Regions from separate parts of the Homo sapiens genome. Here all the other regions are linked to region 3. The links come from fine-mapping of genetic effects on gene expression. A gene starts in region 3. Each other region holds a variant in brackets. All regions are shown on one strand. Distances are between the middles of the regions.

Region 1 (4,167 bases), 88 kb before region 3:
GTAAGTCCCCTTCACACTCAGGGGAGGGGATTACATGAGGATCTGAATACAGAAGGTGGAGATCATTGAGGGCTACCTTAGAGGTAGACTAACCAGATGTTCTTTGGTTTCTTTTATCAGTGTTTTGTCATTTTCAGCAGATTCTGCACATATTTTGTTAGACTTATACCTAGGTATTAATTTTTTGATGCTATTATAAATGGTACTTTAAAACCTTTTTTTTTTTTTTTTTTTTTTGAGACAGGGTCTCACTCTCATTGCCCAGGTTGGAGTACACTAGTGTGATCACAGCTCACTGCAGCCTCAACTTCCCTAGCTCAGGTGATTCTCCCATCTCAGCCTCCCCAGTAGCTGGGACTGCAGGTGTAAACCACCACACCCAGCTAATTTTTATTTTTATTTATTTAATTTTGAGACGGAGTCTCGGTCTGTCACCCAGGCCGGAGTGCAGTGGCACAACCTCGGCTCACTGCAACCTATGCCTCCCCGGTTCAAGCGATTCTCTTGCCTCAGCTTCCTGAGTAGCTGAGACTACAGGTGTGTGCCACCATGCCCAGCTAATTTTTGTATTTTTAGTAGAGACAGGCTTTTGCCATGTTGCCGAGGTTGGTCTTGAACTCCTGGGCTCAAGTGACTCTCCTGCCTCGGCCTCCCAAAATGCTGGGATTATAAGTGTGAGCCACTGTGTCCAGTACTTAAAAACTTTTGAAATTCCAATAGTTTGTTGCTAGTATGTAGAAATTCAGTTGAATTATGTATATTGATCTCCTGTCCTGTGATCATGCTAAACTCACTTATTCTACATACCCACTATTTTTGAACTTTTGTTTTTTCTTTTAAAAATGTCTTAGAGATGGCCAGGTGCGGTGGCTCATGCCTGTAATCCCAGCACTTTGGGAGGATGAGGTGGGTGGATCACGAGGTCAGGAATTCAAGACCAGCCTGGCCAACATGATGAAATCCTGTCTCTACTAAAAATACAAAAATTAGCCATGCATGGTTGCTGATGCCTGTAATCCCAGCTACTCGGGAGGCTGAGGCAAAGAATTGCTTGAACCTGGGAGGCGGAGGTTGCAGTGAGCGAAGATCGTGCCACTGCACTCCAGCCTAGGCGGTAGACCAAGACTCCATCTCAAAAAAAAAAAAAAAAAAAGTCTTAGAGATTAAACCATATCAGGTTACAGAGATCTATGCCATTTTAGTTAATTATTACATAGAGTTCAATTCCAAAATGCTTTTTTTCTCAGGTTTGTCAGTCTGAAAACTGTACGTGTACTAACTTTAAATTTTTTTCTTTTTGCATGTATTTCAATATTGAATTAATACAAATGATTTATAAGGAGTGTCCAATTGATAATTGCTTTTCATTTTCAGGCTTTAAAAAATTGGATTGAAGGAAATCCTAAACTCAGTTTTCTAAAACCTGGCATATTGACTGGACGTGGCAAAACAAATCAGAACACAGGTATTTATATATAGTGAATTAGATTTAGTGGATTATGCATTTAAGAATATGTGTGTGTGTGTATGTATATGTGTGTGTGTATATATATAATATATATTTCAAATTCTGTTTTAATATATATTTCAAGTTCTGTTTTAATGCTTCTATCAGTCAAGGTTTAACCACAGAAGCAAAAGCAGTAGGTGATTATACATATATATGAGAGGTGTGTGTTGTATATGTGTCCACATATGCATATATACAGAGATTTCTTGCAAGGAATTTTACACAATTGGGCTGGCAAAGCAAGTCTGAAGCGTGTAGGGCAGGTAGTCAGGAAGAGACTATCAGGAACAGACTGGAACCCCCCAGACATGAGCTGTTTGGAGTCTCTGACTTTGGAGAAGGCCTAAGCCGTCTTTTAAAAGGCTCACCTGATTAGGCCAGGCCCACCTGGAGTGAACTCTCTTTTGATCTGACTTAAAGTCAACTGATTAGGGACTTGAATCCCATCGGTAAAATCTCTTCAGAGCAGTACCTAGATGAATTACTGGGAACTGTTGTTTGGCCTAGCCAAGTTAATGCATCAAAAAGCCATCACAATGCTCAAATGCCAAAAACCACTCCAG[G/T]CTCTTTCCTTGTAGACATTGCCTCCTCTCATATGTCCTGCAGACAAAGCCAGGGTTGTTTTTTAAGTCATGCTTGCACGCATTATCATCCTGCTCAAATTTTCAACCAATAGATTAAGATTGTCTAGAAATAGAAATGTTCTATTTCTGTTTTATTGTTATTCTTTAAGCAGTAGATATGCATAGCTTTTGTGTATATTATGTATTTTACAATTTTAAAAAGTCCAAGCAGACAATTCTGAAATCCAGCTAGAGTGGTCAAAGGATAAAAGGCTGCCTGTGTTATTATCTGGGAGGATCCTAGGTGGCCCGCCCTCATCCTGACCACCTCACAGCTGTGCCCCCCACCCCTCAGTGACTGGCACTGACAAGTCTTCCTATTTAGTGTTGTTTATAATAAGCACCCTCCCATACCCACCCTGTCAGTCCCTAGTTATCACCCTCGCACTTTCCCTTCATGTCATTTTTAAACTTCATAAATATGAAAAGTAGATTCAGATCTTAAAAAGTGGCTCACCAAATGAAGTCTAACACCATATTTTTGTGGTTGGGATTCAAAGTTCTCTGCGATCTGACTCCAACATGAGTCCTCCTTGATTTTCAAACTTTGTTGTTCCTCCACAAGTAGACACTCAGGAAATATTTTCTTATTGGTTTGTTCATTTATTCATCCGTTCATTCAACAACATTTATTTATAACTTGTGCTGTGCCAGGCATTGTGCTTCTGCCATGTAGCCTTCCCCAACCTCCAAAAACTGGTAGAGAGCTCCTTCTTCCACATTCGCATAGCATCCTTTCTGTGCTCATCATACTCAATTATAGCTTCTTATTTATATTTTTCTTCTACAAAATGTGAGCTCCTTGTGGATAAAAATGGACCTTTTAATCATTATTTTTATCTGACAAGCCATAATTGCTGAATAAATGTTTGACTGAATAGATGAATAAACTAAGAAATTAATCACGTATGATGTCTGTTCCAGAGATGCTCATTGTTTAGTAGATGATGATGGTGAAAAGAAATTGTTTTGGCCTTAGCAAAATATATCTCAAGATTTGGGCTGGAAATATATTAGGAAAAAATTGGAACTTTTATTTATTTTATTTTATTTTTGAGACAGAGTCTTGCTCTGTTTTCCAGGCTAGAGTGCAGTGGCACGAACTCAGCTCACTGCAACCTTCCAGTTTCAAGTGATTCTCATGCCTCAGCCTCCCAAGTAGCTGGGATTACAGGTGCACACCACCATGCCCAGCTAATTTTTGTATTTTTAGTAGGGACAGGATTTTGCCATGTTGGCCAGGCTGGTCTTGAACTCCTGGCCTCAAGTAATCTGCCACCTTGACCTCCCAAAATGCTGGGATTACAGGTGTGAAACACCATGCCTAGCCAATTGGAGCTTCTATAAATTCTGTTAACCCTGAGGTAGAGACCACTGAAGTATTTTCTTCACTCAGTTTATCAGTGTGAACTCTATAGCTTTTATCGAATGGGTTAAACTTGATTTACCAGTAAATTAAGACAATTTTAGCTGAATTTGTTTCTGGTCTGATCCTCTTCCTTGCACAGTTAAGCTAGAAGAATTGTGAACACCTTTTTTTACAAAAAGCTGCATGTAAACAAGCAAAAGTTCAGTTTGCTAAATTTGTATATTTCCACATTTCCATTTCTTAATTTCCTGTTTCATGAAGAAGCAGGTTACCTAACCTCTTCATGACTTACTTTCTTCATCTGTCAAATGGAAAAATAATAATAGTACCTAGCTGAGAGGGTTAATGTCAGTAGCAAAATCTGGCTCACTGCCTGCTTATGAATGACTCTTGAGCTGAGAATGATTTTTGTTTGAAAAAAAATCAAAAGAATATTTTATGACATGTGAAAGGTTTGTGCAATTCAAATTTCATTGTCTATAAAATAACTTTTTGGGGGAACACAGTCATGACCATTCATGTATGTATTGTCTGTGGCTGCTTTCCAACTATAATGGCAGTGTTGGGTAGCTGAGACAGCATGACCCACAGAGCCTAAAGTATTTACTATACATCTAGCCCTTATGGAAAAAGTTTGCCCACTTCTGGTTTAGAACAATGCCTGG
Region 2 (4,167 bases), 32 kb before region 3:
CTGCCCTGTCAGAGAGAAAAATTAAATGTATACAATTTGAGACTTAACATATTAGTGGTCAAATTTATTGGTGATGAAGAAACAAAATGGAATTGCATCTCCTTGCTTGCTGAGTGATAATATGAATTTCATTCATGACTATTTACAATGCAGAATAGGAGAGGTAACTAGTGAAAGTAAAGAGAGTAATTATTGTTTGGTTCAAGTGATTCCTACAATGCCTTTAACTATGGTAGGCAGAAAACATGAACTGAATTGAAGTTAAAACTAATCTAATCATAAAGTCTGACTCTTAGGAACAGACTCAAGACATTCATATGACAACAGCAGCCTGGACATTTAAAGAACTCTTGTTTCTATACTCCTCATCCATGACCTCATTATAACATCTCTCTGACCTGGAATGTGTCTGGGCTGGTATTTTCATCTCTTTATGTTGGGAGACAGAAAACTAGCAATGCTTAGAGGATCAGTACCTTATAGAATCACAATCTCCTGTGTGTAGGACCAAGGTTTATGAGGAAGATGGTGTCACTTGATAACATCTGTGAACCACAGATTATACGCTAAGATTTACTCAACGTCATTCAGTCCATCAGGACAACACAGGGCACCAAGATTTTCTAGGATTTTAAAAATCAAACTGCATTGTTTTGAGTCAAGGTAGAATAAGTCATAGTCACAAGATCGCAGATTCAGCACACAGAATGTGCTCATAAAGCATGTATCATAGGATTGAGTGAACACAGGAAAGGCTAGTAAAATTAATAGCTAAGACCAAAGTCAGACTTCATTAATAAATGAAGTACTGGATAACTACTTCCTAGTACCCAGTAGTTAACACTTTTTGACACTACTAGGAACCAGCAACTATTCTAAATGCTTTGTGTTAATTTTCTCATCTAGTCTCCATAATATCCCTTTGAGTTAGGTGCAACTAATAGCCACATTTTTCAAGTGGGGAAACTGAGACACAGAGAGGTTAAGAAACTTGCTCAGGACCACAGACACTAGTCAGTGGTGGAACTGGGATTGAAACCCAGGCAGTCTGACTCCCGAGTTGACACTATCCTTTAATCCCTATACCACATGGACTTCCCGTCATAGTTAACAGCGACTGTGGCAGTAATGGTGGCAGTGGTAGTTAACACCACCACAGTAACAGCAAGAGCTAAAGGACAACATTACGTTGTGGGCGCTCAGAGCTTTACACATGTGAACTTATCATCACAACCCCTCATGTAAATACTACTGTCATCCTCAATATCCAGAAGCAGCAGCTGAGGCACAGAAAGGTTAAATTTGTCCAAAGTTAGACGATAACACAGTGCTGTTATCTGAGCCTAGGTCTGACTGGCCCTGGGGGTTTCTACCTTGACCATGATACTCTGCTTCTCACTCACTCTGATCCTCCCCTCCCCCAGAGCCTGCCACATGCTACATGCTGAAAATGCAATGGTGCAAAAGCTGTGTGCTCACTGCCCACTGGCACTCTGAGTCTGGTGAAAGGGCAATGGCAAAAGAATGCAATCATCACTGCCTGGTACGGGAGCACTTGGAATGGGCCATGAACCCACCTGGGGGTGGGGGTTGGGGGGATTGGAATGCTTTCCAGAAGGACATGGTATCAATGTGGTCTGAAGGATGAC[G/A]GTGAGTCAGCCCGAGCAAGATGGGCAGACACTCCTTGGGAAAAAAGGGACCGGAAGCATGTGTTATTTACCTCATAGAAAACACATCTGGAGCCGGGCACAGTAGCTCGCACCTGTAATCCCAGCACTTTGGGAGGCTGAGGCGGGCAGATCACGAGGTCAGGAGTTCAAGACCAGACTGGCCAACATGGTGAAACCCCATCTCTGCTAAAAATATAAAAATTAGCCGGGCATGGTGGCAGGCGCCTGTAATCCCAGCTACTCGAGAGGCTGAGGCAGGAGAATCACTTGAACCTGGGAGGTGGAGGTTGCAGTGAGCCAAGATCGCGCCACTGCACTCCAACTTGGGCGACAAAGCAAGACGCCATCTCAAAAAAAAAAAAAAAGAAAACATATTTGGTTACCACACAGATTTTTTTTCTCTTGATATGAATATTCTCCAAGACAAGTGTTGGTTGCTTTAATAGGTAGGATCAATTCCTGAGACTGCCTAACATGGGCTGGGGTCTACAACCCAGCCCATGGGCCAAATGTGACCCAATGCCCATATATGCTTGGCCCTCAAATGAAGGATGATTTTTACATTTTTAAAGGCTGGGGTGTTGGGGGGAAGAATATGTGACAGAGACAGCATGTGGCCAGCAAAGCCTAAAGTATTTGCTATTGGCCCTTTCTAGAAAAAGTCTGCTGATCCCTGCCTGAGTGAATGAGTGTCTATTTGTGTGTGTACATGTTCGAGAAGAGCAAAAGAGGGAGAGAAAGGAGGGACCCCGGGATAGCAGAACAAGGCAGGACACCTGCACCGACACCGGCATCAGCAGACTCTGTGGACCCTCTGGACGAGACACAGCTGCTCCTCAAGGTACTCATCTCGACCTTCTTAATAGTATGCTGAGGGCTCCATCACTCCAGTTCCCACCTGTCTCTACGTCCAGATCTATGTTTCCAGTGTGTTTCGGGCATGCGCACCAAGAATACTTCAGGCACCATCAACTCAATGGGTCAAACCCTGATGCTGGGCTTTCTTTCCTAAATCTGTTCCTCTTCCCTGTCTGTCCATATCTAATGAGCTCTTTTCCCACCACTTAGTACCTATAGCTATCAAGATATTTATTCCAGAAATAGCCTCCCAACCAGCTGCCCTGTGAGGCCATTCAATCTACCTTTGGTATGGTCACCTCAATCATTTCTAAAATATAAATCATCATGCACCAGTCTGAATCTACCAATGGCTTCCCATTTTCTTATAAAGTAAAAATTCCTTGTCTTAAAAACCTAAGTCCTTCAACCTGACCTCAGCCATCCTTTATAAGCCCTCTCCTAGCCTCCAGTCCAAGCTCTCAGCTTCAGCTACACTGTAGCCAGCATGCTCTTCCCACCCCCACTTTCCTCGTGCCTTTGCATGCTCTATTTGCTCTGAGTGGAAGGTCTTTTTCAGCTCTTCTCTCCTTGGTAAACAGGCTCAGGATCCAGATCAGGTGACGCTCCTTGAAAAACCCACAGACTCCCCAGGTCAGGATGATTTGCCCCTTCTCTGTGGTGACTACACTTATCAACTGCATGAAAGCTGTGTGTTCACTAATTTCTCTCCCCTTCTAAACTATAATCTGTTTCTGGAATAAATACTGGCACATAATAGATCTGCTAAATGGATTTAATTTTTTTAAAAAAGGAAAGCATCTCTGACCTTGATTTCTACCACTACAGGTAAGATTATAACCACATGTGGCCCCTGCCTCTCCTCCCCATCTATTTTGCTATACTGTGAGCACTTATGGACTCCTAGTCATTGTCCCTGATCTTCCACCCTCCAGCACCAGGAGGATGGCAGAGCTTCTCACAGCAGAAGCATGACTGATGATTGACGGAGGAATGTTTACCCCAGAAAATGCTGGGGGTATCAGTTTGATGGAAGTGACATGTTCATAGGACGTGCAGAAGCCAGAAATGCTTAGACTGTTTCATGATACAGTAATTCCAGGTAAAACCCTATTTACTCAGGAAAACAAAACATCTATTATATGGAGCTTGGCTCAATTAGCCTAGTTCTAGTTACTGGAATGAATAGACCTAGCATTCAGAATTTTCTACCACTCAGAACTTCCCTAAATTAGTCTAATCTAGTGAGCTTTTAATAAGGTCTCTAAATGTGAATGGCCTCACGGACTAAAGAGGAAATTTCTTAGTTCATTTGAATTCAGAATTGAATGTAGTTCAGTTTCTGAGAATTACATTTAATGGAGCTCCAGAAATTCACGGACAGTATTAACATGGAGATAGTTTTCACATTAATGAAATCTGGTCAGAAATGTTATGAAATTCTTTTTTTTTGAGACGGAGTCTCACTCTGTCGCCCAGGCTGGAGTGCAGTGGCGCAATCTCGGCTCACTGCAAGCTCCGCCTCCTGGGTTCACGCCATTCCCGGGCCTCACTCAGCCTCCCAAGTAGCTGGGACTACAGGCGCCTGCCACCACACCCAGTTAATTTTTTGTATTTTTAGTAGAGATGGGGTTTCACC
Region 3 (4,167 bases):
CCAAATATATACACATAACATCTGTCTTGAACTTGTTCTGACAAGGCACGAAGCTAAGGAAAGAGTCCCGTGAAGGACCTCACCTACCACACTCCAGGATGGTGGAAACTGCTTTTTGACAGGGGCTGAGGAAGCACCACTCAGAGTGACACCCTCTGAAAGTGGAAAGTGAAAGAACGTCAAGACTGGAAATCATTATTCCAATAAACTCAAGGCTAATAACCATGCAACTGCAAACAGAAATGAACACGTGCAAGGGAAGGCAAAAGCATGCCTCCTTGTTCTTTTGGAAATAACTTCCTGACTACTTGGTAACTCTCACAGGAACCCCTACACACTTGGCATGGTCTCCCCACTGGCACTTTTGTGAGCCTACAGGTCCTGTTTGCCACATCACTGTTGTAATCCTGATGCACAGACAGGTCAGCTCTGCAAGCACAGAGACAACCAAAGGCATGTGCGAAGCCTTGCTGACTTTTCAGGAGGCTGGCAAGGTTCATCACAGCCTCACGTGGGGACCTAGTACATGGTTTCCAAAGTGAGATCAAACTTGGTTCCAGATACCAGAGGTTAATACTGTCCATGGCATGAGGTGGTGTGTGTTCCCAATCAGAGGAAGGATCACAAACAAGAAGCAGGCCCAATGAATGAAGCCTCTGAAGCATTTCCTACACCAGCATCCTCAAAGTGTGGTGCAGAGAACTCCTAGGGATCTCCAAAGTCAAAACCATTTTCCTAGTAATAAAATGTTACTTGCTTTTTTTCATTCACACATTTTCAGGAGTATACAGTGGAGGTCTCAAGAGGCTACATGATATGTGATATTGCAACAGACTGCAGAAGCAGCTATCAGAATCCAGCTGTCTTCAATTACGCTTGACATCAAAGAGATTTGCAAAAATGTAAAACAATGCCACTCTTCTCAATCATTTTCTGTTTTGGGAAATATAGTTCTTTTTCATAAAAATAGGCAATGTTAAGATATAATTAGTTCACTATTCTTTTTAAATGAATTATTATAGTACAAATTTCTCAGTCTTACTTACATATTATAAATATGGATAGATATAACACACATAAAAGCTCCTTAAGATACTAATTTTTAAGAGTGTAAAGGAGTACTGAGTACCAGAAAAGTTTGGGGACTTCTGTCCTAGAGGTTGTCCCCCAGGGAAGAGAGTTACATGTGTTGCAAGAAGGAAGATGCCATTATGATGTGCTAGCTGAATCTAGAAAAAAATGACTTGGTCATAACTGCAGCCCAAGCTCCTTTCTAGATCTCTGAATCTATCATGGTGGGCTCTGTGTTCAAGCCTCCCACGAAGGGTCTCTTCCCCCTCATCCCATTTTCCCTTTACCCCTTGGAGTGGATTCCCGGATCTGCCCGCACAACTTTAGCAAGGGTTTCCCTATCCAGCCAGCCGGGCCTGGGCGAGGACTCCCAGTGCGGGCCTCACACCCTCGGGGTTAGGACTCCCAGGACTGGCCGCACACCCTAGGCAAGGACTTTCAGGACAGCACGCACAGCCAAGGCTAAGAAGGGTCTAGGAAAGCCACTTCCAATCCCTGGTTTCTCTCCCCGGCATGACATAGACTGGGGACAGGGTGGAGACGTCAGTCGCCAGAAACACGTCCCCGATTCTCCTCTCAGCCTCCCCAAGCTCGCCTCCGTGTCCCCCGTGCCGCCACTGCCTCGGGCACCTCGGTAAAGGCCCGCACCGACTCTCGAGGGATACAGGGTGGACGGCGCTCCCGCCTGGGGACGTGGGTCGGGCCGCGTCGGTACTCACCTCCGACTGCACGGCGGGGCTCCCGCGACCGGCGAACCTGACCCAAGCAGCGGGACGCGTTCCCGTGCGCTGCGCGGTTCCAGCTGCCGCCTCCACGCTCCGCCCCCTCTCGCCCCCGGGGCCGCCGCGCGATGGGCGGAGCAGGGGCGGGAAGGGCGGAGCAGGGGCGGGACGGACGGGCAGCTAGCCGAAGAAGGGGCGGAGCCTGCGGGCGCCCCCGCGGGCCTGGAGGACTTCGCCCCGGGCTGGAGGCTAGGGTTGCGAAGGGCTCCTCCGCTGGAAGTGGGAGGGCTGATCCCTCGGCCCGGGTCCGCTTCTGCCAGCATGGGACCTGGGACGAGGGTGTCTGTTGCTCACTTTGGAGCTTAGCATGTGACTCCCCAGCCGGCGTTAGGAAGTGACCAAAGGGTGGGGAAGAAATGGAATTATTTTTAAAAAATGATTTGGCCATAACTGGAGAGGCTTCATGTACGTGTGGTCACTTGGCCCGCCTCCCTTCTCACTTTGTCCGTCCCCACCCTACCCACCCTCTCCACCCTCGCCTTAATTCTTTGCGCAAAGCCTGCCAAGTGGACATCGGAGTCACGCTGTCAGAATAGGACTTCAGCATTTCCGTGGCAAAAGTTCTATATGTAGATTTCCTTGGACATGTAACAACACTTTCTAATGCACGATGTTCACCGGTCTGAAGTCGGAGAAATGGCTGGGAGATGGCAGCAAGTGGGCTTTCACAAGATCTGCTTTTCATGTTGGTAGGAGTTGTGCCCTCTTGGGTGAATGGCGTTCAAAGAAGTGATTAGATCTTTCTAGATGAAAGGTGGTGAGGTTTTCCTGCCCAAATTATTTGGAAAGTTACTGTAGTTTTCTGAATAAGCAGCTTATAGGATGAGTAAACAATAGCCAGTACTAATAGCCCCCCTGCTACTTTATACTGCCCTCCTATTCTGCACAAAGCCCTGTGATCGACTCTTTCCACGTTATTCAGTTCAGCTCTTCCAACCACCTTACAAGTAAAGAATATTACCCGTCTTTGCAGGTGTGCAATGCGCAACAGCTGAGACTCAGTCCTTAGGTTGGTTTGACACCAAAGCCTACACCTTCCCTGTCATACTGCACTATAGGGTACAACTATCGTCTAGTTATATTTAACTTTGAAATATAAATACTTATATTTATTTTGAAAGGGGAAGTAACTGTATTTCCAATATGAGAGGAGACTGTTTTCCCACCCACTTCCTAAATCCTTTCCATTCACATTAGTAATTAAATTTTCTTTGAATGTCCACCATATGGCAGAGGTGCACCACAATCCCTGAAAAATCATGCTCCAGTCCCCTTGGGAGGTAGGGAGAGTAGGGGCAAGGTGAGAGTGAGTAGAAGGCTGGGGAAGTCCGATGAGGACACATCCAGCTAAATTGCGATTCTTAATGAGGCAGCCATTCGGAAAGCAAAGTATCTAATGTTCAATGATAACATCCGTGTAACTGAGAATCCTTCGCAGAAAACAATCAAATCAGAGCTATGAAGGGAATTGAGATTTATTAGTAAGCACGCTGGTCAAAACCGTGAAGGAAATAGTTCCACATCCCCCCAGTCTGTTGCTCTTGGACGTTGTCACCAGTGACGTGCAGATCGTGAATCCCAGGGCCTGTCCTCTGTTCCTGTCCTTACTCACTACTCTGTGGTATTTGACACTGGCGATTCGTTTTCCTAGAAATGTTAACCTCCTTTTGGCTTTTCAGCCCTCCGCTCTTAGGAGTCACCTCTTCCCTCTTTTGTCCCTCTTTTTTAAGGTCTTTCCCTACACTCTCTCCTCTTGCTTTATATGTTTCTCCATTTGCTGAGTTTTTCTTCATCTATTTTCTCAGTATGCAGACTGCCTGCCACTTCTAGCTGAAGCCTGCTATGTCTCTGTCATTGGTCTTAGTTAACTTTCTGACCTTCACACTCTTGATTTGCAGCCATATGTGGCAACCCCACCTGGATATTCCAAAGGTGTCTGTATTAGACCGTTCTCACGCTGCTGTAAAGAACCCTGAGACTGGGTAATTCATAGGGAAGGAGGTTTAATTGGCTCACAGTTCTGCATGCTGGGGAGGCTTCAGGAAGCTTACAATTATGGCAGAAGGGGAAGCAGGTATGTCTTACCTGGCAGCAGGCAAGAGAGTGTCCTCTGAATGCACAGTGGTCCTCCTGAATGCTTTGAGGGGACCTTAGAATCCCTAAATTTTTCACTGAATATATGTCTTCATACCAGAGAAAATTTGAAATAAACGTTTTGTTCCTCTTTAAGAAAAAAAGAGTTAAATTCATAACAAGGAGAGGCAGGTCTTAGCCTCATCTTGGCTCCCGGTAAATATCCAACGGCTCTCCCCTG
Region 4 (4,167 bases), 40 kb before region 3:
TAATTTTTTTTTTAGAGGGAAAATCATCTTTCTAATTATGTTTTATTTGGATGAAAATCATCATTGAAGGAGCCCTTTCTGAAACTATATCAGCTGTGTGCTGGCTGGCAAGGAACGGTCAGCCAAGAAGTAAAAATCGAGTGTTCAGATATATCTTGAAGTGGAGGATCTGCTGGACTTTGGCAGATACAGAGACTGCTACTGGAACACTGGGTGCTCTGTCTTAGGAAGTATCACAGAAGTAGCAAAAACATGAGCAGTGGGGGTGGGGACATGAGGGGACAAAAAGCCACAGACAAGCTGGTAACTTGTCTACAGAAGACTGGTTTGCTCCAGACCAGACAAGGAAAGCTTAGGTGGCAATACACGGACTCAGGCAAAGAAGGCTTTCCTAATGCCCGTGTCTGCTTCATAGAAAGGAACTGCTGACACTGTCTGGTCTGTGGATGGATATAAGAGGAGCTTTGGGGATGACTAAAAACTTGGAAACTAAAGAGACCTTATAGTAGGGAAACCACATATGTAAATATTAACAACTCAACCAGAATTGCGAAACAGGCCAGTGGCCCCAGGTTTTATCAGCCAGTGCCCTGTGCCCTCACTGAGAAACACCTCCCAGCATTCACGTCAGAACTCAATCCTGCTGCTCAGGGGTTTCACGGAGAACAAAGTCTGTGGTAACACTTTATTTTTCTTCCAAAGTCTGACACAAGAATGTAGGCTTTCCCAGAAATCCAGCTTCCTTTGCTTTCCTCTACTTATTTTCTGTGTTAATTCTCAAGAGAGACTATTATGCAGTGTGCATTCGATTTTAAAAACTTTGCTTTGGATACTATTTATTGTGTAGATATTTATGGGCCAATAAATATCTGTATCTGGAAAAGACGAGGTTCAGGGAACTACATGTACAACTCCGCCAAGGCCCTGGGCCCTGTCTCGGGCTATTTCCACCTACACACATGTATGACCATGAGGATGGAGTCAAATGCACTTACCTGCCCCTAACATCACAGACGGATTACTGGTGTTTGTGCAGCTAGTAATGGCAGCAATGACCACAGAACCATGAGCAAGGGTGAATTCAGTGTTATCATAGATAAAGGTCTTATGGTCATTATGATGTTCAGGAGCAACTTGGAATCCTTTAAATCCTTGCTAAAGGAAGAAAAAATGTATATTATATAGGAATATATTTATATAAGATATACATGTATCTGGCTAGAGGAAAATACATACATATAGTCAACAGTTCTCACTTGAGAAGAAGGAATACTTTGGTAACTATAATTTTAAAGGCCAATTCTTAACAAAAGCATAAGTATCTCTGCAAGTAAACTCTGAAATGCTACAGAAAAATTACTCGTTTGAAATCTTTACAAAAAGCAGTCATGATATCTGAGTCTTACTCTGCACTGAAATTAGTAACAATTACTTCCTTCCCACCTCAAAAATGTAAATGCTAAAACTACAAATTTAAAGTTAGTCTAAATTGAACTCAATGACATTATTGTACAGTTTAATGGATATGGACTGATTAAGACTATGGATTCTAACCTTATGGAAATTTAGAAAAAGGCGCTATTTTGACCAGACTCAATTAATCATGATCAACAACGCAAACAAAGTACAGCTGAATATTTGGCATAATACTGGTGTCTCACAGATAAAATCCATCATACATCTTAATCATTCTTTTGGGAAATGTTCATTGAAAATCTAC[C/T]GCATGTAAGATACTGTGCTAGGTACCTTGCGGGCTCCCAAGGTGATTCAGACACAAATCCTATTCTCACACGTACAGTCTAGCAACAGAAATCATACATGCAAATAAAGTACCAACAATGTAAGTTAAAGAATATGGAATGCTATCGAAGTATTTCAGCCCAAGCACCATGAAGTGTCCAATAAGGGAAAGGGGACTTTCTGCTATGAGATTCTGAGAACCCAATGCAGAGTAGCTGGTATCTGAACCAAGTCTTATGGAGTTCACAGAACAGAGTAATATGAGTTGGAGAAGAGACTTTCAGGCAGGGAGGGGCATGCACAAAGGTGCAACAGCTAGAAAACCTCGGGTGAGTAAACAGTGTGGTGAGGGTCCTGTGAAAAGCAGACATGCTTAAAAAGGTGGGTTGAGTTGTGTCTATGATGGCTCTTGCCGCTTGGCTCGTGACTAATGGAGGAAGTCATTAAGGACTTCAGAAGGAAGAATAAACACCCTCAAGCTTCAGGCTACAGGAAGATTCATGTCAAGTGGGATGAAAGCCTGGACGCTGAGTAACCAGGCAAGAGGTAGAGTTGAGAGGATTCAACCTCTTCCCGCAGGCCCCTACCTTGGCTCCAAGGCAGCTCTCAAAGTCCTTTTTCATGTCGGACACAGCAACTTTGTCCTGAGGCCTTTTGGGTCCACTACAGCAAGGCACTACTGTTTTCAAATCTAATTCCACAACCTGTTGACCCCAAAGAAAAGAAATTATAGAATTTACATTATACCCACAAAGAGGAAACCCAAAGCATGTCAGAGAATTTAAAACATGACAACCATAAAAATAAGCAAATAAACTACCACATTCCAAAACAAGGAAGCCAGTGTTTCTCTTAATCCTCTTAATTAATCTTAAGTGATTAATTTCCCAAGATCATCATGGGCACTTAAGTAGCAGGAGACAGGCAGGCAGCCTTGCCACCTCTCAGAAAGAACAGGGTGGGTGCTGCAGATGCTCAGTGTCCTCCACTCGCCCATCCTTGGAGGCAGCTCATCGCGTTTTATATGGCTAAGTTAGGCCGAAGGTGGGTTTTCTATTGAAATCATACATAAACCATTACACTTCTAAGGTGATTTCGGAGGGATGCAGCCGTTAAGTTATCAACACCAGGAAACGGGCCTTAGTCTAACTGAACATTTCCCCTCCTCAATGTATTAAGAAACCAAACATGGGTCGCAGGGCTAGTTTACCTTGTTGTCTAGAAAAACGTGGATTCAGTTTACTGACATGTTTGTACCTTCACTTCTTTCTAGGTCTGTAATAATGATGGTTTAGCCTTTAAACAGCTCTTGTTCCACTAGTGAAGTCTCTTTATTTTTCTTTATATTTCAATAGATTTTTGGGGAACAGGTGGTGTTTGGTTACATGAATAAGTTCTTTAGCGGTGATTTCTGAGGTTTTGGTGCATCCATCACCTGAGCAGTGTACACTGTACCCAAATTTGTAATCTTTTATCCTTCACCTCCCTCCCACCCTTTGCCCTGAGTCCCCAAAGTCCATTGTATCATTCTTATTCCTTTAGCAAAGTCTTTCAGTGGTCTTCCACATTAAGAGGTGTGAATCAGTAGTTCAAATAGGGAAGCACACTTAACCTACAATTATTAAGCCAGTAGGAATGTAAGAAGTTATATTATTCTGTTATGTTTACAATTGCCTTATCCTTTTGGTTTTTCAACCTTCTAAAACTCCGTTCTCTTGTAATGCCTTGGCAGTGACTAATTTCCTACTAGCGCATTCCCCCAAGAAAAACCACCACTAAAATCGCAGCCTTGAGGAAGAGGAAATACATGCACAGTGGAAGGCACTCTCATACCTGGGTGAAGTCTGGGTCTTGAGAAGGGTCATTGAAATCTCGAAACATTCCTACAGCCTGAAGATATTTTTTAATATACTTTAATTTTTCTTCATCACGACCTAAAAGGCATTTTAAGGAGTAACAAGTAACATAGGTTAGTATTTCCTGGTTGAAGTTTATAAACTGATACTTCCATTAGCAATTATGTAAGTACGCAACATACGCTGCACTTACACACACACCAACAGCTCTGTCAATTTTTAGGCTTCCAGGCTAATGGTTTGACTCTCCCACTGATGCTGCTTTTTATTAGGGGCCATTAATGAATGTGCTGTTCCTATCAAAGTGACTGTTTTCTGAAAAAGATTCTGGTTCTATCTATAGATAACCCGCCTCTTTTGGGGTATAGCCTTTAATTAGGAGAATCTTACACCTGAGCTAATTGTGAAAGCACACCTATGCATTTGCCTTCAACTGGCCACAAAGATTCAGCATTCCACATGATTACCGTTAAAATTAAAACGCATCCCAACCCCACCTGAAACCACTGGCTACTGAGCACTTTCTGGGCACTGTGTCCTAAACATTTTAAATGTATTACCTCAATCTCTA

Alleles and levels. Alleles are on the strand shown, and positions count from the first base shown. SD is a standard deviation of normalised expression in the study named. Not every link is listed here.
For the expression in subcutaneous fat of the gene that starts at base 1,883 in region 3, allele T in region 1 goes with a lower level than allele G (small effect, 0.39 SD a copy in TwinsUK).

What was found. PIP is the estimated chance that this variant, and not a neighbour inherited with it, causes the effect. A credible set is the group of variants that fine-mapping cannot tell apart.
Region 1: its variant is the best candidate, but not a certain one, in a credible set for the expression of ACO1 in subcutaneous fat (TwinsUK, PIP 0.78).
Region 2: its variant is the best candidate, but not a certain one, in a credible set for the expression of ACO1 in pancreas (GTEx, PIP 0.82).
Region 4: its variant is the best candidate, but not a certain one, in a credible set for the expression of ACO1 in esophagus muscle (GTEx, PIP 0.88).

What each region holds. Positions count from the first base shown.
Region 1 is chr9:32,470,273-32,474,439 of GRCh38, reverse strand. It overlaps RIGI (RNA sensor RIG-I), which reads left to right. Exons shown (of 18, transcript NM_014314.4): 14 at 1,375-1,465. All of the region lies in intron 1 of LOC124902138 (a long non-coding RNA gene), which reads right to left. Among named protein-coding and RNA genes, the nearest start is that of RIGI, 54 kb to the left of the region's middle. The variant G/T (reference allele first, on the strand shown) is at 2,074.
Region 2 is chr9:32,413,966-32,418,132 of GRCh38, reverse strand. It overlaps ACO1 (aconitase 1), which reads right to left. Exons shown (of 21, transcript NM_002197.3): 5 at 1-5. Among named protein-coding and RNA genes, the nearest start is that of ACO1, 31 kb to the right of the region's middle. The variant G/A (reference allele first, on the strand shown) is at 1,650.
Region 3 is chr9:32,382,359-32,386,525 of GRCh38, reverse strand. ACO1 (aconitase 1) reads right to left here and starts at 1,883. Exons shown (of 21, transcript NM_002197.3): 1 at 1,791-1,883. RefSeq lists a silencer at 1,703-2,082.
Region 4 is chr9:32,422,826-32,426,992 of GRCh38, reverse strand. ACO1 (aconitase 1) reads right to left here. Exons shown (of 21, transcript NM_002197.3): 9 at 3,574-3,674; 10 at 2,328-2,444; 11 at 996-1,155. Among named protein-coding and RNA genes, the nearest start is that of ACO1, 40 kb to the right of the region's middle. The variant C/T (reference allele first, on the strand shown) is at 1,721.